Homo sapiens: one gene and its partners. The protein of the gene in region 2 purifies or fractionates together with the protein of the main gene of each other region. This does not show direct contact. Each region holds a gene or a part of one and is shown on either strand. Other genes may lie near its edges.

Region 1 (3,500 bases), on a different chromosome or scaffold from region 2:
CCCAGAACTTCTGGCCTCTTGGTTCTTGTCTAATCACATTTTATATCACCCAGTGGTCAGGGAGGTAGGTGGCCTGTCTCTTCCAGTAGACCCCAAGCCGGGGTTGGGCCCTGCAGGCAGGACCTGGAGCTGAGTCATCTCACTGCAAGGGCCTGCACAGTGCCCAGCCCACAGCGGATCCCTAACAGGAGAGGCATGGAAGGGGTTGAGGACTACTAGGGAGCCTCTGTGAGGCACACTCCTGTCTCAATGAGATATGTACCTTCAAGGCGGCCCCCCAGGCTTGTCGGAGGGCAACAGGTGCCAGGGCCCTTGAGGGCATAAGGCAAGACCACATATGGAGGGTAGGATGGAGGAGAAATATCTACTAGGACCCAATTTCGAGCAGTGCTTCTCAACTTTAGGGTGCACTCAAATCCCCTGGGGATCTTAAGATACAGACTCTGATTCACTGGGTTTGGCATGAGACCTGAGATTCTGAATTTCTAGTGAGCTCCCACGTGATGCAGATGCTATGGGTCCTTGGACCACATTTGAGACACAAAGGTTTGGAACACTCTCTTAGGTCAGAATTGACATCCCAAGCACCTGGGCCGTACAGAGGAATTCCTATGATGCTGTGAGCAGGAGCCCCAGTACCTGTTTCTCCTCCAAGTGCTCATGGATGCCTCCCCTACCATCTCATCTCTCACTTTCAAGAGGGAGGAGGCAGAAGAGCTGATGCTCATGAGATTGACCCTGAGGACTGAGGGCCCAGGAGAAGTCCACCCGACCCTAATTTCCCAGTGAAACCTTAGACAAGGGTTGACCTCACAATCCTAAGACCTGTCCTCTGACCCCACAGGTAAGAGGCGCCTCTTGAATATCCCTTAAGATAGAACTGCTCTGTCTGGTTCTTGTGTCCAGCGCATTTAACACAAGGCGCACATGCTGATATTCACCTATGTCAACTGCAAGTGATTTTGAGAGCCTCCTGGATGCCAGGCGTCGGGCAGGACATAATAATGCAGGTGGTATCTCTGGCCTCAAGGAATAACTTCACCAAATAAAACAGTAGGGGATGCATCTTCTGGATGCATTTTCAGGGGCATTTCACAGAGGTGCTGAGAATGCCCTCCTTTAGAGGACAGCACTTGACTCTCATTTGTAGAGAACAGACAGACCCAAGAGCCCTTGGTCAGACAGGGAGATGAAGACCCTGAGAGGATCAGGGACTTTGTCCGAGGTCCCACAGCCACATGGTGATCAGGACCAGATGTGACACCAGGGCCCACTACACAGACTATCTGCTACTTGCACAGGCAAGAGGCCTCTCCCGGGCCCAGCCAACCACCTGGTTCAGAGGGTCCCTCTAGGGTGAAGGACACAGATCCTGACAACACCTGGGGCTTGGCCCCTTCCCATGCCAACAGAGACCCCCAAAGCATTAGGTAGTGGGCATCCCCAAGAAGGAAGAACAGCTGCAGGAAGGCCTGTTCACATGCCAGGACCTCCCTTAAAGAGGAGCAAGAATCAAATATGTTTTGTTCAAACACAAGGCTTATAAAAGATGTGCCTGAGTGAGGAGGCGAGAAGGTGAGACTCGGCTTCTGAATATGCCTTCTGAGAGACAACCAGGGAGTGTCTCGCTGGCCAGCAGCAGTGTAACTAAGCCTGATGAACCGGGTCAGCCGCCCATAGCTCTCACAAGAGGAATCTCAGGACTTACGTGACTTACTCACCAGCTTGGATGGCCAGGAAATTGTAGAGTTCATGCAGCAGCTCCAGCAAGGCTGCCTTCTGCTTGGCCTGACAGAACTGGAAAGGCACGGGACAAGTGGTCAGCAAGGAGGGGTGGGTGGGAGGGGTCCGTCTGTCCATCTTTACTTCTCCAGCCACACTGTCAAATACTAAACAGCAAGGAATATCTCATACTTTTACAAAATAGAAAAAAATTCTGCCAAGTGCTGGGCCTAGGGAGAGAGTTGATAAATATTGGGTTAACTGCCTGAGAAAGACCCTGGAGAAGCAGAGGCAAAGCTGAAAGCAGACACTGTAACCAAGGGGCTGCATCCCAGAGGCTCCTGGCTCCTGCCTTTCCCTTGGAATGACGGCCATTAAGAGGGCTGAGCAGAGGCGACGTGGTCGGGGGATGATGCAGTCGCTCAGCTTCCTCAGAGGAAGAGCAACTGCTGTCGGAGTTTGCAGAGATGGGAGAGCTGGAAGAGCTAGGAGAGCTTGCAGACAGGGCAGAATGTCAGCAGCTGCCATCTCGTCTCCCGTTAGGTGGAATCTCAGAGCCCTCATCTGAGTAAGGATTGTGGTAGGATTCAGTGCGAACTCACACAAACCACTCAGCAGAGGCTGCTACCACCTAAAGGAAACAGGAGGACAGACGGTACCAGACAACGAGACGGCCTGATTAAGACAACACACCCACTCCCAGCCTGTCCCCACGTTTTCAGCAGCACAAAGGCAGAAAGAAAAACACAAAGTGTCACCGTCTTCAACGACCGAAAAGGGAAAGAACATGAATCTGAAATTCAAATGCCCGTCTGTGATCTCGGTAAGCCTGGAGCCATGCAAAGAATAAGACTTTCAGCAAGAGCCTCACCAAAGCCAAGAAACACGTCCCCACCTGCTTGTTCCTGTGTCCACCCTCCAGAAAGGCCAAGGGTGCCCCATGAAATCTTAGCTCCACAAAGCCTGCATTGAGATGGCCCAGCCCCTGCTTTCTGATGCTCTGATGAAGGTCTGAATGGTTACAAATAGGGATATCTGCGTCTGAAGCCCTCGCTGGCAGGTGCTGAATGCCGTCTGCCCACGGAGCGCATCTGTAGCTAGGACCTGGAGGGTACCTGTCTGGGCTCACTCAAGTGGAGCCTGAGTGTGTCCAGATCAGAGAAGGCCAGGGAACAAATGTGCCATTCACTTGTGGGTCTGATTCATTTAGAGATGTGAAGGACCAAGAAATAGAAACCATGGAACTTTTTTCTAATTAAAAGACAAAACTAACAGCACTGAGAAGTCTTACAGAAAGTTATTTTTTCCTGTTTTTGTTTTAAGTCTTCAAATTCCAGTTTCCCCTCTGGCTGCCTGTGTTTCTGGGCCACTTCCTCTCATCATCAACTACAGTTTTTATGATAGAAGGCAGATTAAACTTACTATGAATCTGTTTTTACAAAACAATTGGGAAGCAAAGATATTTGGTGGATGAATCCAATAAATGGATGTAATAAAACACCCCCAACTATGACACACCCGAAGCCAAAGAGAAATAAAAGCCGTTATCTGCACCAGGATGCCCCCTCATTTACATGAGTAAGACAGTCAATGCAGGGCTGGCCAGAGGACCATGCGTCATTTTCTTTCCCAGCCCCTGGGCTACTAGAGATGTTAACTAAGGACTTGGGAGGCCAGGCATTGCACACTTAATTAGACTACTAAGTCATGCCCTCTGGCAGCACAAGACTCCTCCTGGTACAATTTAAGACCTGAAAATTTACTGCCCCATATCTTCT
Region 2 (4,092 bases):
AAAACTAGCCAGGTGTGGTGGCTCACGCCTGTAGTCCCAGCTACTTGGGAGGCTGAGGCAGGAGAAGCTTGAACCCGGGAAGCGGAGGTTGCAGTGAGCCGAGATCGTGTCATTGCACTCCAGCCTGGGCCACAGAGCGAGACTCCGTCTCAAAAAAAAAAAGAAAGAAAAACAGTGCCCAGACTGTGGTGTCCAAAACCTATTTCCGGCTCCCACCCTGAGTCCTTAACCAGGGATAGGGATGGGTTAGCACCCGCAGTCCCCAGAGAGCTGCAGGCTTGGGGTGTACTGAGGGGCTGACCCCAGGAGGACAGGCCAGGCTGGGCAGAAGAACCCACGGTGTCCATTCCTTATCACGAGGCCTGCAAGTGACGCTGGCGCCCGAGAGACAAATCACGCCCAGTGCCCCGTCTAGGCTATGGCCTTTCCGTTCATGCTGTAAAGGTGCCTGTGGGTCAGGCAGTCCAGGAGGGCTTCCTGAGGGAGGCAACTCTTGAATATGGGGGAAAAGGCACAAAAGTGCAATGGCGGTGTCTGGGAATATGCCCCTCTTCCTTCTGCCCACACCGGCCCGGTGTGCAGGGGGGAGGCTGGAAGCTGGGAGCTGAGTGAGCATGTACGGTGCTGCGCCGGGTTGTGGGAGAGCAGAGGAAGCAGGGACTGGAGAAAGGCGAGCCCAAGCGAGCCTGGTGCGGTGGAAAGCAGGAGGCAGAAAGACCTGCCTGTCATCAGCTAAGAGCATCCAGAGACGTTCACCGAGCAAGGAGCCAGGCCACCCTCTGCTGCCGGAATGAGGAATAACCCAGGCTCGCAAACGGAATCCTGCAAAGAGATTTCCGACAGGGCCTCCAAGCAACGGGCAACGCTGAGGCTCAGGGAAGCACTGCCGCTCGACCAAAGTCCTACAGCGAATCAGGAACAACGCCTGACGCCTCCAAAAGTGGGCTCCAATCCCAGCTCTTCCCCTCTGTGTGACTCTGAGCAAGACCCTTCCCCGCTGGACCTCAGTTTCCTTCATTGTAAATAACGTTCTGGCACATACTAGGCGCACAAAATCACTGGCAGGTAGCCCCGCGGAGCCCAGAAGCACAATCGGCCGCCAGACCACGTGGCCAGAAAGCACCGCCCTAACGCCGCCCACTCCGGACCACTTCTCCGCGGTCGTCCAACCCTCGCCGGAAGTTACTGTAAGTGGCTTCCGGGTCTGCGCGCACAGTGGCGGATGATGTTTTTTTTTCCTCCCCCCCCCCCCGCCCTCCCCGCGCGCGTGCGCGCCGCGGCCGCGCCTGCGCAGTGTAGCCGGGTCAGCTGGACAGGGTCATCCTGAGGGTGCGACTCCGCCGCGATGGTGACCCGGTTCCTGGGCCCACGCTACCGGGAGCTGGTCAAGAACTGGTGAGGACGCCGACCCGCGGCCCCATCCGCGCTCCCGCCTCGGCCCAGCCCCGCGCCGCTGCGTTCCGTATTTGTGCGCGTTTCCGGGGGCCGGGCCGGGCCGGGCCCAGGTCCCTTGTTGTTCCCGGTGACAGAGGGGGAAACTGAGGCCGAGAGGCGGAGCGGCGCGTCCCGGCGTGAACGGGACGTGACGGACCCAAGGCCAAACCCCAGCATGCCCGGCTCCGCGGCTAGGCCGCTCCAAGCCTCAGTTTCCCCATCTCTACCGGGGGATCCGAATGGTGACCCCCTGGACGGAAGCGCCCAGAAGGTGCCGAGTCCCGATCCCCAGCCCAGCACTCGCGGCATCTTCGGCCTTTGCCACTATTTTGGTTTTTATGATTTTTAACAAGGAGCGTGAAAGCTTCAGCTGCGCCTGAGCCCACGTGGGCAGCGGGACGGCATAGGGGTGGCCCCCATAGAAGCCGGGCTGGGGGTGGCCTCCGTAGGGTTGTCTGGTGTTTCCACGTGGGGTGCTAAGAAGCAAGGCCTGGCTGGGTGCGGTGGCTCCCGCCTGTGATCCCAGCGCTTTGTGAGGCCGAGGCAGGTGGATCACCTGAGGTCAGGAGTTCGAGACCAGCCTGGCCAACGTGGTGAAACCCGCGTCTCTACTAAAAATGCAAAAATTAGCCAGGCGTGGTGGCGGGTGCCTCTAATCCCAGCTACTCGGGAGGCTGAGGAAGGAGAATCGCTTGAACCCGGGAGGAGGAGGTTGCAGTGAGCTGAGATTGCGCCATTGCACTCCAGCCTGGGTGACAGAATGAGACTGTGTCCCAAAAAGAGAAAAGAAAAAAAAAGCAGCAAGGTCTTAGCCGGGTGCAGTGGCTCCGGCCTGTGATCCCAGTGCTTTGGGAGGCCCAGGCAGGAGAATCACTTGAGCCTGGGAGTTCAAGACCATCCTGGACAACACAATGAAACCCCATCTCTACAAAACAAAAAATTATCAGGGCATGGTGGCACCTGTCTGTAGTCCCAGCTACTGGGGAGGCTAAGGTGGGAGGATCGTTTGAGCCTGGGAATTTGAGACCAGCCTGGGCAACACAGCAAGACCTTATCTCTACAAAAAAATTTAGAGCTGCTGGGCGCAGTGACTCACGCCTGTAATCCCAACACTTTGGGAGGCCAAGGCGGGCGAATCACCCGAGGTCAGGAGTTTGAGACCAACCTGACCAACATGGAGAAACCCCGTCTCTACTGAAAATACAAAATTAGCCAAGTATGGTGGCGCGTGCCTGTAATCCCAGCTACTTGGGAGGCTGAGGCAGGAGAATCGCTCAAACCCGGGAGGTGGAGGTTGTGGTGAGCTGAGATTGTGCCATTGCATTCCAGCCTGGGCAACAAGAGCGAAACTCCGTTTCTAAAAAAGAAAAAAGCAAAGGCTTATGATTGGCAGTGTCTCCGGAAGCCAGAACATACTTCCTCTATCCCAGACTGGGGGACAGGTCGGGGACAGGGTCTGCACGGTGGAGCTGACTGGGACCTTCAAGTGGAATGTGATGGTGCCGGTGGCGTTTTACAGCGTGGGTAACTCAGGCCTGGGATGAGGAAGCCTGCTCCTAGCTGAGAACCCAGTGGCCCATGGTAGCCAGTGCAGCCCCTCCCGGGTGCAGCAGGTCTGCTTCTTCTGTGTTCAGTCACAGCGGGGACCACCCGTCATCCGTGCTTTCATCCAACAGCAAGCATTTATTTATTTATTTATTCATTTATTTATTTAGAGACGGAGTCTTGCTCTGTCGCCCCGGCTGGAGTGCAGTGGCGCAATCTCGGCTCACTGCAAGCTCCGCCTCCCGGGTTCACGCCATTCTCCTGCCTCAGCCTCCCATAAGTAGCTGGGACTACAGGCGCCCGCCACCACGCCCGGCTAATTTTTTTTGTATTTTTTAGTGGAGATGGGGTTTCACCGTGTTAGCCAGGATGGTCACGATCTTCTGACCTCGTGATCCACCTGCCTCGGCCTCCCAAAGTTCTGGGATTACAGGCATGAGCCACTGCGCCCAGCCCAACATTTATTGAGCACCTACTATGTGTTAGGGACGCGCCAATAGACCGAACCCTTGTGGGCGGACATTCTGGTTGGTGGGCAAGGAAAGGTAAAGAAACGAGACCTGTGGTGTGGGGCTGACCTAAAATAACGAAGCGGGAGAGGAAGGGGTGCAGACACGTGCGTGCGAGGGGCCGTGCAGGGCTGTGCCACCAGGCAGTGGCTTTGGGAGGCTAGGGAGCGGGTCTCATCCCCAGGAGGCACTGTGGGGTTGTGTCTCAGAGTCTCAGACTTAGGACTGAGAGGGCCACAGTTCACCAGCTGGGGACCCTGCAGTCCACACCCCTTCTAGGCCCTGCTGGGGCTTGCTTTGAGGAAGGGGTTGTCGTGGCGACGAGGTCGTTGGTCAGTGTGGTCATGGTCTGTACGTCCTTCCTCAGTGGCTAGTGGAAATCAGGTTTTGTGGGCTCTTCCCACACTGTCCAAATCCACAGGGTCCTACATGGGGTGACCAGGATGATAGGGGAGGCGGAGGCCGGCCCACTGGGCATATTTATGAGCAGGCTTCTCTGGTGATTAATAACCCAGGGCTGGGCGCAGTGGCTCACGCGTGTAATCCCAGAACCTTGAGAGGCTGAGGTGGGTGGATCCCTTGAGGTCAGGAGTTCGAGAAGAGC
Region 3 (2,739 bases), on a different chromosome or scaffold from region 2:
ATTGGTTCACCCACTAAATGATCTTGTCATCCTTGAGGGGCCCAGATTTAAGTGGGAGGGGTTTCTGATCTGACTTCCCAGTTGTAGATGCCTTAGGCTTTATTGCCTATCCCAATATGTGGCCCACTAAAAAGTAGTTCTAGGCTACCCACAAATCCCACATAAAAGCAGAGGCCTTAAGGCCGGAACGGTGGCTCAACGCCTGTAATCCCAGCACTTTGGGAGTCTGAGGCAGGCAGATCACTTGAGGCCAAGAGTTTAAGATCAAACTAGCCAACATGGCAAAACTCTATCTCTACTAAAAATACGAAAGAAATTAGCTGGGCTTGGTGGCGGATGTCAGCTACTCGGGAGGCTGAGGCACAAGAATCACTTGAACCTGGGAGGTGGAGGTTGCAGTGAGGCGAGATTGCACCACTGTACTCTAGCCTGGGTGACAGAGCGAGACTCTGTTTCGGGGGGGAAACACAAAAAGAAGGCCACAAAAAACAGAATAAAAAGATGAGTAAAGAGAATGTTTATGAAGTGGCTCCTACATAATGTCCCAGCCCTGGGAGTCACGAACAGACTCCATGGTTTTCATTGGCCCCTCTTCTTCGGTATCAGAATCCCTGGTTTAAGGCAAGGATGAGAGAAGAACACGAGGACGCAATGAACCAGATTCAAGCTGAGGCTGTGTGGCATGGCAGAAGGCTGAACTATTCTTGTGTAGCCCTAGGGATAGTCCAAGAGCCCTCTAGTCTTCTCTGAGGCAATGAGATTCAAGGGCAGCTGTGATCCTTGCCCTTGAACGGAAACCAGCCGTGGCCAAATCTGTCCTCACAGATCCATGTCTCCCTGGGGCAGTGGCAGAGCAGAGGATAGTTCCTTATTACTCTTTGCTCAAAGGGAGATGTCTCCTGTCCTTGCCTGCATTTCGTCGCCTCTTTCGACTCAAGAAGTTCTCCAATTTCTTGCTGCGTTTCAGCTCCTTGAACTTCTCAGCTAGTGCCAACTGGCGCTGCTCAGCTAAATGACAGGGAGAATGAAAGTTGGTGAACAAAGAAGGAAGCCCCTATTCTTTCCCAAACCAGGTCAGTAACTCCAAGCCATTATGCTGGATACATGAGTTCTTTAAAGCTCACTGGTGCCCCTCTATCTTTTTTCTGAGACGGAGTCCTGCTCTGTTACCCAGGCTGGAGTGCAGTGACGCGATCTCGGCTCACTGCAACCTCCGTCTTCTAGATTCAAGTGATTCTCCTGCCTCAGCCTCCGGAGTAGCTGGGATTACAGGCGCGCACCACCACATATGGCTAATTTTTTTGTATTTTTAGTAGAAACAGGGTTACGCCATGTTGGCCAGGCTGGTCTCGAACTCCTGACCTCAGGTGATCCGCTCTCCTCAGCCTCCCAAAGTGCTGGGATTACAGGCGTGAGCCACTGCGCCTGGCCAACGGGTGACTTTTTTTTTTTGAGATGGAGTCTCACTCTGTCACCCAGGCTGAAGTGCTGTGGCACGATTTCAGCTCACTGCAACCTCCGCCTCCCAGATTCAAGCGATTCTCCTGCCTCAGCCTTCTGAGTAGCTGGGATTACAGATGCACAGCACCACACCCAGCTAATTTTTGTATTTTTAGTAGAGACGGGGTTTCACCATGTTTGCCAGGCTGGTCTTGAACTCCTGACCTCGTGATCTGCCCTCCTTGGCCTCCCAAAGTGCTGGGATTACAGGTGTGAGGCACTGCGCCCGGCCCAACTGGTGACTTTTTTTTGTTTGTTTGTTTTTCCTGTGAGATGGAGTCTCACGCTGTTGCCCAGGCTGGAGTACAACAGTGCAATCTAGGCTTTCTGCAACCTCCACCTCCCGGGCTCAAGTGATCCTCCTGCCTCAGCCTCCTGAGTAGCTGGATTACAGGTGCACGCCACCAGGCCCGGCTAATTTTTTTATATCTTTAGTAGAGACAGGGTTTCACCATGTTGGCCCCCAGGCTGGTCTCGAACTCCTGACCTCGTGACCCCCCCACACTGGCCTCCCATAGTGCTGGGATTATAGGCGTGAGCCACCGTGCCCAGCCCAACTGATGACTTTTTATATGATCTCAGTACTACTCAATTCAACCAACTATGAACACCTATGTGCCTGGCCCAGCGTGTGTGCATGTGTGTGTGTGCAGTGTAGACCAAGAAACAAAACTGATTGTGTGTGTGTGTGTGTAGACCAAGAGATAAAACTCTGTGTGTGTGTGTAGTATAGACCAAGAGATAAAACTGATTGTGTGTGTGTGTGTGTGTAGACCAAGAGATAAAACTGACTCTGTGTTTGTGTGTGTGTGTGTGTGTGTGTGTGTGTGTGTGTGTAGTGTAGACCAAGAGATAAAACTCACTGTGTGTGTGTTGGGGGGGGGGGGTTGGGAAGTGGGGAGTGTAGACCAAGAAATAAAGGTGACAATGCCTGCCATGATCTAATTAGGGATACAAGACTGGTTACAAACAACTCCCTACTATTTCTACTTTCCTCCAAGTTACCATGGGATCCAGCCTTCATGCCTTCCTTAAAGGGGATCAGGGACACCCCAACACAAGACTCTACCACCATGGCCCCTGCACCCCTGTCCCTGTTAGCAACAGTTGTGCCCAACTCACATTTTTTCAGGAAGTATGGCCGATGGCCCTGCTGGGCCTGAGCCCGACGTTCTTGCTTCAGGGCCAGGTGCAGCTCCTGCTGTTGCTTTCGTTCCTGCTGTGCCATTTCTTGCTGCT
Region 4 (3,500 bases), about 45 Mb from region 2:
CCACCCCAACCACAGCCCAGCGGGTGATCTCTCCGGTCTCCTGTGCCATGCACATGCAGAGCCTGGCCCTTCTTTGTACACTTATCCCAACCCTAAGTGACCAAACTTGAGGTTCTGTGAGACCAGGCCACCGGGGTTGGCCCGGGTGGCTCCGATGCCCCAGAGGAGAAACTGTAAGGGCAGGGCTCACCTCGGCCGCGGCTGCTGCCCTCCTTGGCACGCCGGTACTGGTTCAGCTCTTTGGTGAAGTCGTCATAGTCCTCCTTGCCCATGTCCTCCTCCTCGTCGCCCTCATATTCCCCATACTGCTCATTCTCGTAGTCCTCGTACATGCCATAACTCTTGCTGTCCATCTTGGAGTATGCCTTCTTGGGCAGGGGCGTGGCATGCGATGGGGGGTACTGCTGGTGGGACTGCGTCCCAGAGATGGGGAAAAGAGGTGAGCCGGATCCCACAGCCGTGGGTGCAGACTACCAAGATACCCAGGGTTCCCTAAACGAACATGTCTGTCTGGGTGTCACTACTGTCCCAGGGTTGCACTGCTGGTCTCCAGCCCCTCTGGGGACTGGTTCTCGTACCAGGGAGTGGGAGTAGCAGCGGGCCCAAGTGTTTCTGTTCTTCATAAAGGGCCAGAACTAGAAAGAAAACAGAACCACAGACCCCCGATCCCTGATGAACAAAGGGGAGAAGAAGGGAGCATTTCCCAAGGATGCAGAGCAAGCGCACGTGGAGGGGCCTGGGAAGCAGGCGGGGGCTGCTTGGTCACAATTTTCCTAGGGCCCTGGAATTCAATAAATGGCCTGCTTGGCAGCCAGGCTGGACAGCCATCTCAAATGATGCTTTCCAAAGTGTGGTAATGCCAAGTGGTACTAGAAGAAGTTAAAGATACTCATAAAAACGGAAGCAACCAAGACATCCTTCAACAGGTAAATGGATAACAAACTGGTATATCCAGACAATGGAGTAACGACGAATATGTAACAATAAAGTGTGTATTGGGCAAAACCCAGAGAACTATACAACCCTAAGTAATAACAATGTATCAATACCGGCTCATCAATTCTAACAAAGTTACCACAACAATGCAAGACATTGGTAATGGGAAACTGGAGGCAGGGAAGGGGGCAGGCAGAGGGGAGAAGGGAACTCTACTACTACCTGCTCAATTTTGAATAAACTTAAAACAGCTCTAAAAAAGAAAGTCAGGGGGCTGGGCGCGGTGGCTCATGCCTGTAATCCCAGCACTTTGGGAGGCCGAGGCGGGCAGATCACAAGGTCAGGAGATGCAGACGCGAAATGCGATCTCTACTAAAAATGCAAAAATGCAACAACAACAACAACAACAAAATAGCCGAGTGTGGGGCAGGCACCTGTAATCCCAGCTACTTGAGAGGCTGAGGCAGGAGAATTGCTTGAACCCGCGAGGCAGAGGTTGTAGTGAGCAGAGACTGCACCACTGCACTCCAACCAGGGTGACACAGCGAAACAACAACTCAAAAAAATTAAAATAAAGTCCGGGCACAGTAGCTCACACCTGTAATCCCAGCACTGTGGGAGGCCCAGGCAGGCAGATCTCTTGAGGTCAGGAGTTCCAGACCAGCCTGGCCAACATGGTGAAACCCAGTCTCTACTAAAAATACAAAATGAATTAGCCGGGCATGGTGATGGGCGCCTCTAATCCCAGCTACTCGGGAGACTGAGGTGTGAGAATCACTTGAACCCGGGAGGCAGAGGATGCGGTGAGGCAAGATTGCGCCACTGCACTCCAGCCTGGGCGACAGAGCGAGACTCTGTCTCAAAAAATAATTAAAATTAAAAAAAAAAAGTTGGGCCAAGCGTGGTAGCTCACGCCTGTAATCCCAGCACTTTCGGAGGCAAAGGCAGGCAGATCACAAAGTCAGGAGTTCGAGACCAGCCTGGCCAACATAGTGAAACCCCGTCTCTACTAAAAATACAAAAAAAAAAAATTTGCCAGGTGTGGTGGTGGGCGCCTGTAATCCCAGCTACTTGAGAGGCTGAGGCAGGAGAATCGCTTGAACCAGGGAGGCGGAGGTTGCAGTGAGCCGAGATTGTGCCACTGCACTCCAGCTTGGGCGACAGAGCGAGACTCCATCTCTAAATAAATGAATGAATGAACGCATAAAAAAGTCGGCTGCGCATGGTGGCTCATGTCTGCAATCCCCGCACTTTGGGAGGCCGAGGTGGGCAGATCATTTGACCCCAGGAATTTGAGACCAGCCTGGGCAACATTTTGAAACCCCATCTCTACCAAAAGTACAAAAATTAGCCTTGGCGTTATGGCCCATGGTTCCAGCTACTTAGGAGGCTGAGGCAGGAAGATCACCTGAGCCCAGGGAGCTCGAGGCTGCAGTGAGGTGAGATCACACCACTGCACTCCAGCCTGGGCAACAGAGTGAGATCCCATCTCAATAAACAAACAAACAAACAATAAAGCCCACTAATTTTAAAAAATCCGAATTATAGAAAAACAGGACAATGCAAAATACAGCTAGACACACAGACACACATACAAGTACTTTAGCAGATCTTTAAAATGCCTCCAGCTCTAGTTCATAAAAAGCACGCAATGTTCCCTCCATTTCCTGCCTCCCTCAGGTTTGAAGGCCAAACCTACACCAGTAGATCAATCTCAACTATGGTATTGGACAATGAATCATTTGTTGTGATGGATGATGCTGGGTCATGGGATACCTGGGACAGCTTTAAAGACCTACTAACTTTAAAACATTTCTCAACCAGCCGGGCACGGTGGCTCTCGCCTGTAACCCTAGCACTGTGGGAGGCCAAGGCGGGCGGGTCACCTGAGGTCAGGAGTTCGAGGCCAGCCTGGCCAACATCGTGAAACCCTGTCTCTACTAAAAATACAAAAATCAGCCGGGCAAGGTGGCACATGCCTGTAATCCCAGCTACTCGGGAGGCTGAGACAGGAGAATCGCTTGAACCAGAGAGGTGGAAGTTGCAGTGAACCGAGATTGCCCCACTGCACTCCAGCCTAGGCGACAGAGCAAGACTCCGTCTCAATAAATAAATAAATAAATAAATAAATAAATAAACAAACAAGACAAAACATTTCTCATCCAAACCCGGACACCCACGTGCCAACGAATACTGGGTAAAGTAATCATAAGATGATTTGCGGCCGGGCGCGGTGGCTCACACCTGTAATCCCAGCACTTTGAGAGGCCGAGGCAGGCGGATCACGAGGTCAGGAGATGGAGACCATCCTGGCTAAGACGGTGAAATCCTGTCTCTACTAAAAACACAAAAACTTGGCCGGGAGTGGTGGCGGGTGCCTGTAGTCCCAGCTACTCAGGATGCTGAAGCAGAAGAATGGTGCGACCCCAGGAGACAGAGCTTGCAGTGAGCTGAGATTGCACCACTGTACTCCAGCCTGGGCGACAGAGTGAGACTCTGCCTCAAAAAAAAAAAAAAAAAAAAAAAAATGATTTGCTTTTCTCTTATGGGATTTTCTGGGGGAA
Region 5 (3,500 bases), on a different chromosome or scaffold from region 2:
TTCTAATGATTTTTTAATGTTAAAATAACCTGCCATTCTTGGAATAAACCCAACTTGTTTACGCACCCCAACTTACGGCATCTCATAATGAATAAAATTTCTTAATTTTAATGTAATCAAATTAGTCAACCTTTTTTCTCCTTTATAATTGGTGCTTTTTAAAGTAGTTTAGAAATCCTTCCAGATTTGATGTAAGATACCTAGAGGTGAAGAAGAAGATACTCTCTGGCACAAACTTCTAAAAGGTTTAGAATTTTGCCATCTAATTTGGTCTTTGCTTGGAATTGCTTTTTGTACACAGAATAAGGTAGGCAGTCTTATTTCATAAAAGGATACTAGATATCCCTAGAGCAATTTAAAAATTTTTCTGGCCAGGCACGGTGGCTCACGCCTTTAATCCCAGCACTTTGGGAGGCCGAGGCGGGTGGATCACGAGATCAGGAGATCGAGACCATTCTGGCTAACACGGTGAAACCCCATCTCTACTAAAAAATACAAAAAATTAGCTGGGCATGTTGGCACACACCTGCAGTCCCAGCTACTCGGGAGGCTGAGGCAAGAGAATTACTTGAACCCGGGAGGCGAAGGTTGCAGTGAGCCGAGATTGCACCACTGCATTCCAGCCAGGGCAACAGAACGAGACTTTGGCTGTTAAAAAAAAAAAAAAAATCTTCACTTATTACATCATCACCTCTGTCATCTATCAAATTACCATGTGTATGGATGCCTTTCTGGGCTCTTTACATGGTTCACTAATCTGTCTGTCCACTGCTAAACAAATTGCACATTGTCTTAATTTCTGTTAACTTTTTTTTGTTTTTTTTTTTTGAGAAGGAGTTTCACTCTTGTTGCCCAGGCTGGAGTGCAACGGCATGATCTCACCTCACCGCAACCTCTGCCTCCTGGGTTCAAGCGATTCTCCGGCCTCAGCCTCCAGAGTAGCTGGGATTACAGGCATACGCCACCACGCCCAGCTAATTTTGTATTTTTAGTAGAGACGGGGTTTATCCACAATGGTCAGGCTGGTCGCCAACTCCCAACCTCAGGTGATCCGCCCACCTTGGCCTCCCAAAGTGCAAGGATTACAGGCGTCAGCCACCGCGCCTGGCCTAATTTCTTAACTTTTAAGACAAGTCTTGGCTGGGCGCGGTGGCTCAGGCCTGTAATCCCAGCACTTTGGGAAGCCGAGGTGGGCAGATCACTTGAGGTCAGGAGTTCGAGACCAGCCTGGCAAACATGCCAAAACCCCATCTCCACTAAAAACATAAAAATTAGCTGGGATATTATGTCTGCCTCTTCATATAATCCCAGGACTTTTGGAGGCCTAGGTGAGAGGATTGCTTGAGTCTACAAGTTTAAGGTTAGTGAGCTATGTTCTTGCCACTTCACTCCAGCCTGGGCAACAGAGTGAGACCCTGCCTGAAAAGAAAATGACAGAGTTTCTACAAAGATGTCTATAAAATACATTTCTGATTGACAGTTATGTATTAAGTAAGAATACAATGTATTGAATGTTAAAACTGACAGAATCTATTATTTTCCAGTTGAATTATAAACATTATAGCCAATTAAAATAAAACACTGCCAACAGTTCATGGTAGGAGCCAAATGCAGTTAATTCTCTATAAATACAAACTTACAGGGAAAAAAAAAAAAGGCGCAGAGAAGGGAAGCAGTCCCCAGTCTGCACTATAGATGCAGCCCAATGATAACATTACCTATTCTCAGTTTTCTTGCTTTTATTTCCAGGACTGGAGGATCGGGATCGCCGGCCCCGGCTTCTACTCCTTGAGCGTCTCCTGTCTCTACTTCGAGATCTTCTTCGCTCTCGGCTTCTGTCTCTCTCTCTACTTCTGGAACGTCTGAAAGGGGGACACTTTTCATTTATTCTATGACCAAATGGAGCTACTATTTCAGATCAGGGGATTCTGTCCCACATTGAAAGAATCTTAATCACTACCATTATTAAAGGTGGAGGTCTCAATGAAGTAAAGCCAAGTCTTATAAGTGCTCAACGAAAAAAATGAGAATACTAATTTATTTCTTTCATTTTTTTAAAGACAAAGTCTCACACCTGTCACCCAGGCTGGAGTGCAGTGGCACAATTGCAGCTCACTGCAACCTCTGCCTTCTGGGTTCAAGTGATTCTCCTGCCTCAGCCTCCCCAGCAGCTGGGATTACAGATGTGCATCACCATGCCCGGCTAATTTTTTTTTTTTTTTTGGAGACAGAGTTTTGCTCTTGTTGCCCAGGCTGGAGTGCAATGGCGCAATCTCAGCTCACCACAACCTCCATCTCCTGGGTTAAAGCGATTCTCTTGCCTCAGCCTCCTGAGTAGCTGGGATTACAGGCATGCACCACCATGCCCAGCCAATTTTGTATTTTTACAGATGGGGTTTCTCCATGTTGGTCAGGCTGGTCTCGAACTCCCAACCGCAGGTGATCTGCCTGCCTCAGCCTCCCAAAGTGCTGGGATTACAGGCGTGAGCCACCATGCCAGGCCAGAGAATACTAATTTCATAAAGATGTTTGTGAAAAAACCATAATAAGTCTGTAATTAACATCGATTGAAAATCGATGGTCTAAGATAGAATATCTAGTTTCAGATAGCCTAAACCTAAGTATAAGGATGGGCATAATGGGTCTACTAAAAGATCACTAATCTGAAGATGAAGAGGCAAGAATTTCTATCCTGCTACTCCTGGTAACTAATGACATGATGAAGGTCAGATCTCCAACTTTCTGGGTCTCAGTTTCATCATCTATAAAATATGGAGACTTCACTAGACATCTTTAAAATCCCTCTTGCTCTAAAATCTTGTGATTCTACTTTCACACCCAAAAGTCAAAGACCAAATGTTAAATAACCATTTTCACTTAAGTACTTGAATTAATTGTGTGAAATTGTTCCTAGGACCACAAAATGTGAAAATGCTATCCACATTGTCACGGGTGAATATTTTCCCTGAATCCTACGTAACAACAATGTACTCCAATGTCTGAAAAGGATAAAGTTAAATTCTTTCTATGATCCACTCACAACACAATCTTGTCTTCCTTTCCTATTTTAATGAGAAACTGGGCAAGGTATGGTATCTCATACCTGTAGTCCCAACCCTTTGGGAGGCCACTAGCAACACAGTTAAGACCCCCATCTCTATGAAAAGCTTTTTTTAATTGGCTGGGTGTGGTGTGCACAGAAGATTATTTTCTTTTTTTCTGTTTTGAGATGGAGTCCTGATCTGTCGCCCAGGCTGGAGTACAGTGGCACCATGTCGGCTCACTACAACCTCCACCTCCCAGGTTCAAGCAAGTCTCCTGCCTCAGCTTCCCGAGCAGCTGGGTTTACAGGCATGCACCACCACACCTGGCTAATTTTTTTTTTTTTTTTTTTTTTAGTAGAGACGGGGTTTCACCATGTTGGCCAGGCTGGTCTCAAACTCCTGACCTCGTGATTCACCCACCTTGGCCTCCCAAAGTGCTGGGATTACAGGCATGAG
Region 6 (3,500 bases), on a different chromosome or scaffold from region 2:
GCCCCCGGCCCCAGCAACACAGGCTGTGCAGGAATTTATTCAGTAAATAAAAGTTCCCAGGGGCACTGAGGCTGTGTCTGGACCTTTCCATCACAGACAGTGATGTATGCCGTCTTGCCACCTATGCTGTGCACACAAGCAGGTATCTGTAGGGTAGAGGCACGCTGTCTTAACAATTAAAAATCCTGTACATTTATCCTTTTTGGGGTTAAATGTTCAGAACCACGAATCACAGAAGATTCAATGATTAATTACGAAATTTAATTTCCAGTCCTGTTGTAGATAAGCAAGTAGTTCTGACTACACAGAGATTTAATTTCCTCTTTATTAGGAGATGGCAAAAATATTTTTCGAATTAAGAACTTTTATCTTCACTTTCAATCAATTCACCTTAAAACAATAACATTGAAAAACAGTAAAAGCTTAACTATGGTTTCCAGTAATGTATGCTATGCAGAGAAAAATTTCAGAAGTACAACTTAGACTATCTTGACCTTTCCATCTTAGATTGGCGAGGCAGCATAATTCCTATGTGCTGTAGGCATATTCCCCAGCTGCTAATGACTTATTTAAATTAATTATACATGATGAACTCCTAAACCGTTGTTCTCTAGCTCCATGTTACACACCAACCACCATGACACAGAAACAGTAATACTCCAAATTTTCAAAATAAGATAAGTGGGTTCGATGTGCTCCACATTATCGTCAACACAGATATATCTGAGCAACATTTCTGAGAAAAGGCCGGGAGCAGGGGATGAGACCCTTGGATGTCAATGGGAGGCTGACAGCAGGGCAGGCACCGTCTCTGAGGCTCCTGCAGCGGCAGGTCCTGTCTTCACTGTCTCTGCAGCCTCTGCATTGAGCAGAGTATGTGCTGGACCAACGAACTGACCTGATGGTCCAACATAGGCTTCCTATCAAAATCAGGAATCCGAATATAAGCATGTGCTTCTGTAAGAGACAACGTCATCCCTGGAAGGGGGGAGCTGCTGCTTCCACCCACTCCCTGCTGGAGCCATCAGGCTACTATGTATGGATGCTTCCTCTCAGCCAGGGCGAAGCCAGCACTCCAGGGGAGAGAGTGCAGCCCAGTGTGTGCTTAGCTCTGGGGAGGGCCAGGCGGAACTGACCCCACTACCGACTGGCTACTGTCAGGTCTCCAGCCTCCCACCTCAGCAGGAAGGACGGAAACCCCATGTCCTGCTCTGGACAGTCAGTCTCACCCCTAAAAAGTGTCCAAACATGTTTTAAACTGGGGCCACAAAGGACGGGATCTGAATTCACAAAAACAAACAAAACAAAACGGTTTATAATTATTTCAACTAGTAGTACATATTATGCAGCTCCAACCTGATACCTGCATTCTTTATGTAACTGTGTAAAGTGCAATCACACTGGAACACAACAGAGATGAAGAAACTGTTTTCAAAGCTGAGCGCCATTCCTTTAAAGAACACGCAGACTGTTAGTCTATATGACCTTCCTGAGCCTTCCATCTTGTTAAATAAAAACGAAGTGTTAAAAAAAATAGCAGTGCCGGCAAAATGGCAGACTGCTCAGAGACTCATCCACTACAAATGTCAAAAATGTCAGCTAATTTGAAAAATTTAGGCTGGGTGCCATGGGTCACACCTATAATCCCAGCACTTTGGTAGGCTGAGGTGGGAGGATGCTTCAGGCCTGGGCAATACCATCAGACCCCATCTCCAAAAAATAAAATAAAATAAACTAGCTGGGCATGGTACACATCTACAGTCCCAGCTACTTGGGAGGCTGTGGCAGGAGGATGGCTTGAGCCCAGGAGTTTGGGGCTGCAGTGAGGTGTTGATGGCACCATTGTGCTCCAGCTTGGGTGATGGAGTGAGCCCCTGAGCTGAGCTCACAAAAAGAAAAAAAGGCTGCCTGTAGGTGTAAAAATGAAACAAATGCCCAAATCTGAAAACACTCCAGGGACATCCTAGCCTAGGTCCACAACTTGCTTCAGAGGCTCCACGCTAAAAACCACTCAGGCTGACAATGCTCTGGGCACACCCTTGACCCAGACCCAGGAGATTCTCACAGAGGAGAGCTGTGAAGCCGAGACACGCGCAGCCTCTGTGAGGCGGTCTGCTGCTAGCCACTGCTGCTGTCACCTCTTCCCCACACACACCTGTGATTCTCTCCAAGGTTTTAATCAAATTTGAAAATCATCCTGTCTCTCAAAAGGACTCCAAGAGAAATAAAGTATGTGTTGCTTGATGAGATGAAAACACTTCTCTGTCTGCCGACAGAGAATGTGGGACGTGTCCTATGGCACTGCCATGCTCGGAGGCAGCCCGGGAACCAACACCACAGTGGTTCATGAATTCCGCTACACCGTTCCTGGGTTGCTTCTCCCAGATTCTCACTTCATAGGGTGTCAGGGATGTGAAGATCTAAGGGAGGACGTCAGATCCATCCTTCCCCAGACACTGTGGCCCTGGTGGGAGGCAGGACGGGCACAAGTCATCTGGAGCAGCCCAGGGCCAGCCTCCCGAAGGGCTTCTGCCGCTTGCCCAGCCCACCCCTTGCCCTGGCTTCTGTTCCCCAGGTCTCTGTCCTTTGCACGGCCTCACAGGGTCTCTGCCTGCCATGAGGCCCCTATTCAGCTTATCTCCAGTGCCACCTCTTTCGGGAAGCCTCTGCCTCCTTGGCAGACTCAGGAGGCCTTTGCTCTGGGCTCGCGTGGGGACCCTGTAAACAACGCCCTATGGCAACTCCTGCGCCACTAGGACTGGTGTGCAGCTATGTTCCCAAGGACTCCATATCTCCAAATAGTGACCACAAAACCTTAGCCGCTCACACAGCTCCTGGCATGAGCAGGCCCTCAGTAAGTGTTTAATGAGTGAGTTCATGCCAGCTGGTGGCACGGCCTGGACTGCTTCTAAAATGCCTCAGTGCTAAAATATCCTGCAGTGACCATGAAGCTGCTTGACACGTGCCGCACACAATGGTGGCACCATACAGCTCACAGAACCCTTTAACTGGACTGAAGCCCTTTAAACTGACTACCAACTATAGGACACAGGGATTTTGTATACAGCCCCTTGTATGTTGTACACAGCAATTCTCGTGAACACTAAATTTTAAGAATTTCTGGACTAGTACAGGGTGACAACAGAAATAAAATCTACAAGCTGGGCTGTAGTCTACAAACTGAAGTCTGGGCTGGCAAAAGCCACATCAGCTTTACAATAACTGTGCCATTACTAGTCATGAACGGGGGAGGGCACAGTGTGCCAAGGGGCTCCTGCTGTCCTCAGGCTGCCACGACATGCCGGGATTCTCCTGGGCTTATAGCGAGGCTACTTCCCGACAACCCCACCATACACTGACAACACCGTGAAGTGGAAAATGCACAGAATCCACCTATAACCCACCGAACACCATGGCACAGCCTCACCTGCCTTAAATGTGCTCAGGGCACCTACAGTAGCTGACGGCTGGATGACATCATCTAACACGAAGCCTATTTT
Region 7 (2,284 bases), on a different chromosome or scaffold from region 2:
TCTCACCAAAAACAAAGTTAACTGCCATTCAAGGGAGTAGTTTATGTGCTATTATTTAATAGTATGTTAGTGATGTGTTTGAAGACTTCTACAGAAGGCCTTTTCTTTTTTCTTTTTTTTTTTTTTGAGACGGAGTCTCGCTCTGGAGTGCAGTGGCACAATCTTGGTTCACTGCAAGCTCCGCCTCCCGGGTTCATGCCATTCTCCTGTCTCAGCCTCCTGAGTAGCTAGGACTACAGGCACGCGCCACCATGCGCGGCTAATTTTTTGTATTTTTAGTAGAGACAGGGTTTCACCATGTTAGCCAAGATGGTCTCAATCTCCTGACCTCGTGATCGCCTGCCTCGGCCTCCCAAAGTGCTGGGATTACAGGTGTGAGCCACCATGCCCCGCCCAGAAGGCCATTTCTTTTTCTTTTTCCCAAAAAAGGGAAGCAGTGACTATCTGAGAATGGGAGAACTTCCATTACCTGTTTTTGAGAATATGTTTAAAGGACAAACGATGAAAATGAGTTACCAAAATAAGAAAACACTTGCTCATATTAAAAAATTATTGTAAAAAATGTTTTAAAAAATAATTTCTGATGTAGCTGGAATTAAGAGATTTTGTGTATTTTCCAAGTTAAAGAATTAATCTATAGTAGAGCTCTTTTCTTAAGTAAAAAGTGTTCTGATATACTTTATTATAACATGACATCTATCATTTTGGATATAGAGCAGAGCTACTACCACCACCACCATTTCCCGTGAAATATTCTTCTCTTTGAAATACTTGAAGTCATGCATGAAATTCTAAGAGCTCTTTATTTTTCAATTAGAATATACAAATGGCTCTTTTTTTCTGTCTTTGGGTAGATGTTGCAGTAGAATCACTTTTAGAAATTTTATTAACTGTGGAAGGTTTTTAAACTTAGTAAAGGACCCTATTAGGTAAATATGATAAGAAGCAATTAAATAAGTAAAGTTGATTTCTTGGTACTAGCTTCCTTTTACCTATTGTCATCGTGAAAATATTTTTTTAAATAGGTGTTTTTCTAGTGAAAGAAAATGCTTTGATTTTTCTGAGAAAGTTTTCTTTAAGATGAGTTCCCATAACTTGCTTATATTTTGTATATTTTATTTCTAGGGAAGTGAATCGTATTAAACACAGCAAGCCTGGATCTGTGCCACTTGTGTCAGAGAAGAAGAAACACGTAGTGGCAGTTGTAAAATAATTGGTATTCCTAACAATCCTGATGTATAATTATTTGTTACTTTTGATTTGAGAACTCTACAAATAAAAGTGCTGGGACTAGATTAATTGCAAACATTTTAGTTATATGTGTAGAGCTTTATTGTTACTCCTTTTAGCTACCCTGAAAAATGATCCTTAAAGGTGGCCTAGTTGGTAAGACTGTTTTATCCTTAATCTGCATTCTTCTTTCATTGTAGAATACAGTATTTGCAACTCATTTTTTCTTGTTTTTATTACAGATATACTTACTTTCTCTTTGATCTATTATTGTAGACACTATACATTCAAATTGACATTTAAGACCAAACATCTCTTATGTTATCTTTAATATTACTTTGAATAATGATTGCAATGATGTTTCTTCCTGTGATTCCACATAACATTTAGAATAATGATGTCAATTTTTTACAACTGAATTTATTTCTAGTGCTTTACTTATATTTGGCTTTTTGACTCTTTTAAAACAATCAGCCTGCATTTATATAACTTTTATAAATAATAATATAATTTGGGTCAAGTTAAGATATTAAAAGTTCCTTTCAGCATTGAAACTTTGGCCTATTTTTGGTAAATAATTTTCAATCTCACTAAATCCTAAATAGCTCTGTGTAACATAGGTTTTTCTTTTTTTAATCATCAACTTAATAAACTTTATTATAAATATGTATAAATCCAAATTTTAGGAGATGTTAAGTAAAGAAGAGATTTTAAAATCCAAAGAAAAGAATGTGTTAAGAATACAGTCATCACTCTGTATCTGTGGGAGATTGATTTCAAGATGTACCATTGATGCCAAAATCCAAGGATGCCCAAGTCCTTGATATTAAATGGCATAGTATATGGATATAACCTCTGCATATCCTCCCAAATACTTAAAATCATCTCTAGATTACTTATAATACCTAATACAATGTAAATGCTAAATAAATAGTTGTTATACTGTATTGTTTAGGGAATAATGATGAGAAAAAAAGAGTCTGTACATGTTCAGTACAGATGCAATTTCTTTTTTCCAAATGCTTTTGAGCCACAGTTGGTTGAGTCTATGGGC

Evidence for each region.
Region 1: the proteins of UQCR11 (region 2) and LEMD2 purify together in Homo sapiens (affinity purification with mass spectrometry; one large-scale study listed by BioGRID and IntAct). This does not show direct contact.
Region 3: the proteins of UQCR11 (region 2) and RRP36 purify together in Homo sapiens (affinity purification with mass spectrometry; one large-scale study listed by BioGRID and IntAct). This does not show direct contact.
Region 4: the proteins of UQCR11 (region 2) and ZC3H4 purify together in Homo sapiens (affinity purification with mass spectrometry; one large-scale study listed by BioGRID and IntAct). This does not show direct contact.
Region 5: the proteins of UQCR11 (region 2) and DDX46 purify together in Homo sapiens (affinity purification with mass spectrometry; one large-scale study listed by BioGRID and IntAct). This does not show direct contact.
Region 6: the proteins of UQCR11 (region 2) and SFSWAP purify together in Homo sapiens (affinity purification with mass spectrometry; one large-scale study listed by BioGRID and IntAct). This does not show direct contact.
Region 7: the proteins of UQCR11 (region 2) and DCAF13 purify together in Homo sapiens (affinity purification with mass spectrometry; one large-scale study listed by BioGRID and IntAct). This does not show direct contact.

What each region holds. Positions count from the first base shown.
Region 1 is NC_000006.12:33,782,631-33,786,130, forward strand, and holds part of LEMD2 (LEM domain-containing protein 2), read right to left. Parts: intron 1,890-3,500; coding exon of another isoform or gene 1,863-1,889; exon of another isoform or gene 1,831-1,862; intron 1,798-1,830; coding exon 1,722-1,797; intron 1-1,721. UniProt on the Homo sapiens protein: Nuclear lamina-associated inner nuclear membrane protein that is involved in nuclear structure organization, maintenance of nuclear envelope (NE) integrity and NE reformation after mitosis.
Region 2 is NC_000019.10:1,602,663-1,606,754, reverse strand, and holds the start of UQCR11 (cytochrome b-c1 complex subunit 10), read left to right. Parts: upstream 1-1,292; 5' UTR 1,293-1,345; coding exon 1,346-1,395; intron 1,396-4,092. UniProt on the Homo sapiens protein: Component of the ubiquinol-cytochrome c oxidoreductase, a multisubunit transmembrane complex that is part of the mitochondrial electron transport chain which drives oxidative phosphorylation.
Region 3 is NC_000006.12:43,027,361-43,030,099, reverse strand, and holds the end of RRP36 (ribosomal RNA processing protein 36 homolog), read right to left. Parts: coding exon 2,623-2,739; intron 1,009-2,622; coding exon 872-1,008; 3' UTR 501-871; downstream 1-500. UniProt on the Homo sapiens protein: Involved in the early processing steps of the pre-rRNA in the maturation pathway leading to the 18S rRNA.
Region 4 is NC_000019.10:47,089,777-47,093,276, forward strand, and holds part of ZC3H4 (zinc finger CCCH domain-containing protein 4), read right to left. Parts: intron 414-3,500; coding exon 191-413; intron 1-190. UniProt on the Homo sapiens protein: RNA-binding protein that suppresses transcription of long non-coding RNAs (lncRNAs). LncRNAs are defined as transcripts more than 200 nucleotides that are not translated into protein.
Region 5 is NC_000005.10:134,765,279-134,768,778, reverse strand, and holds part of DDX46 (probable ATP-dependent RNA helicase DDX46), read right to left. Parts: intron 1,863-3,500; coding exon 1,719-1,862; intron 1-1,718. UniProt on the Homo sapiens protein: Component of the 17S U2 SnRNP complex of the spliceosome, a large ribonucleoprotein complex that removes introns from transcribed pre-mRNAs.
Region 6 is NC_000012.12:131,749,090-131,752,589, reverse strand, and holds part of SFSWAP (splicing factor, suppressor of white-apricot homolog), read right to left. Parts: intron 1-3,500.
Region 7 is NC_000008.11:103,441,670-103,443,953, forward strand, and holds the end of DCAF13 (DDB1- and CUL4-associated factor 13), read left to right. Parts: intron 1-1,125; coding exon 1,126-1,213; 3' UTR 1,214-1,784; downstream 1,785-2,284. UniProt on the Homo sapiens protein: Part of the small subunit (SSU) processome, first precursor of the small eukaryotic ribosomal subunit.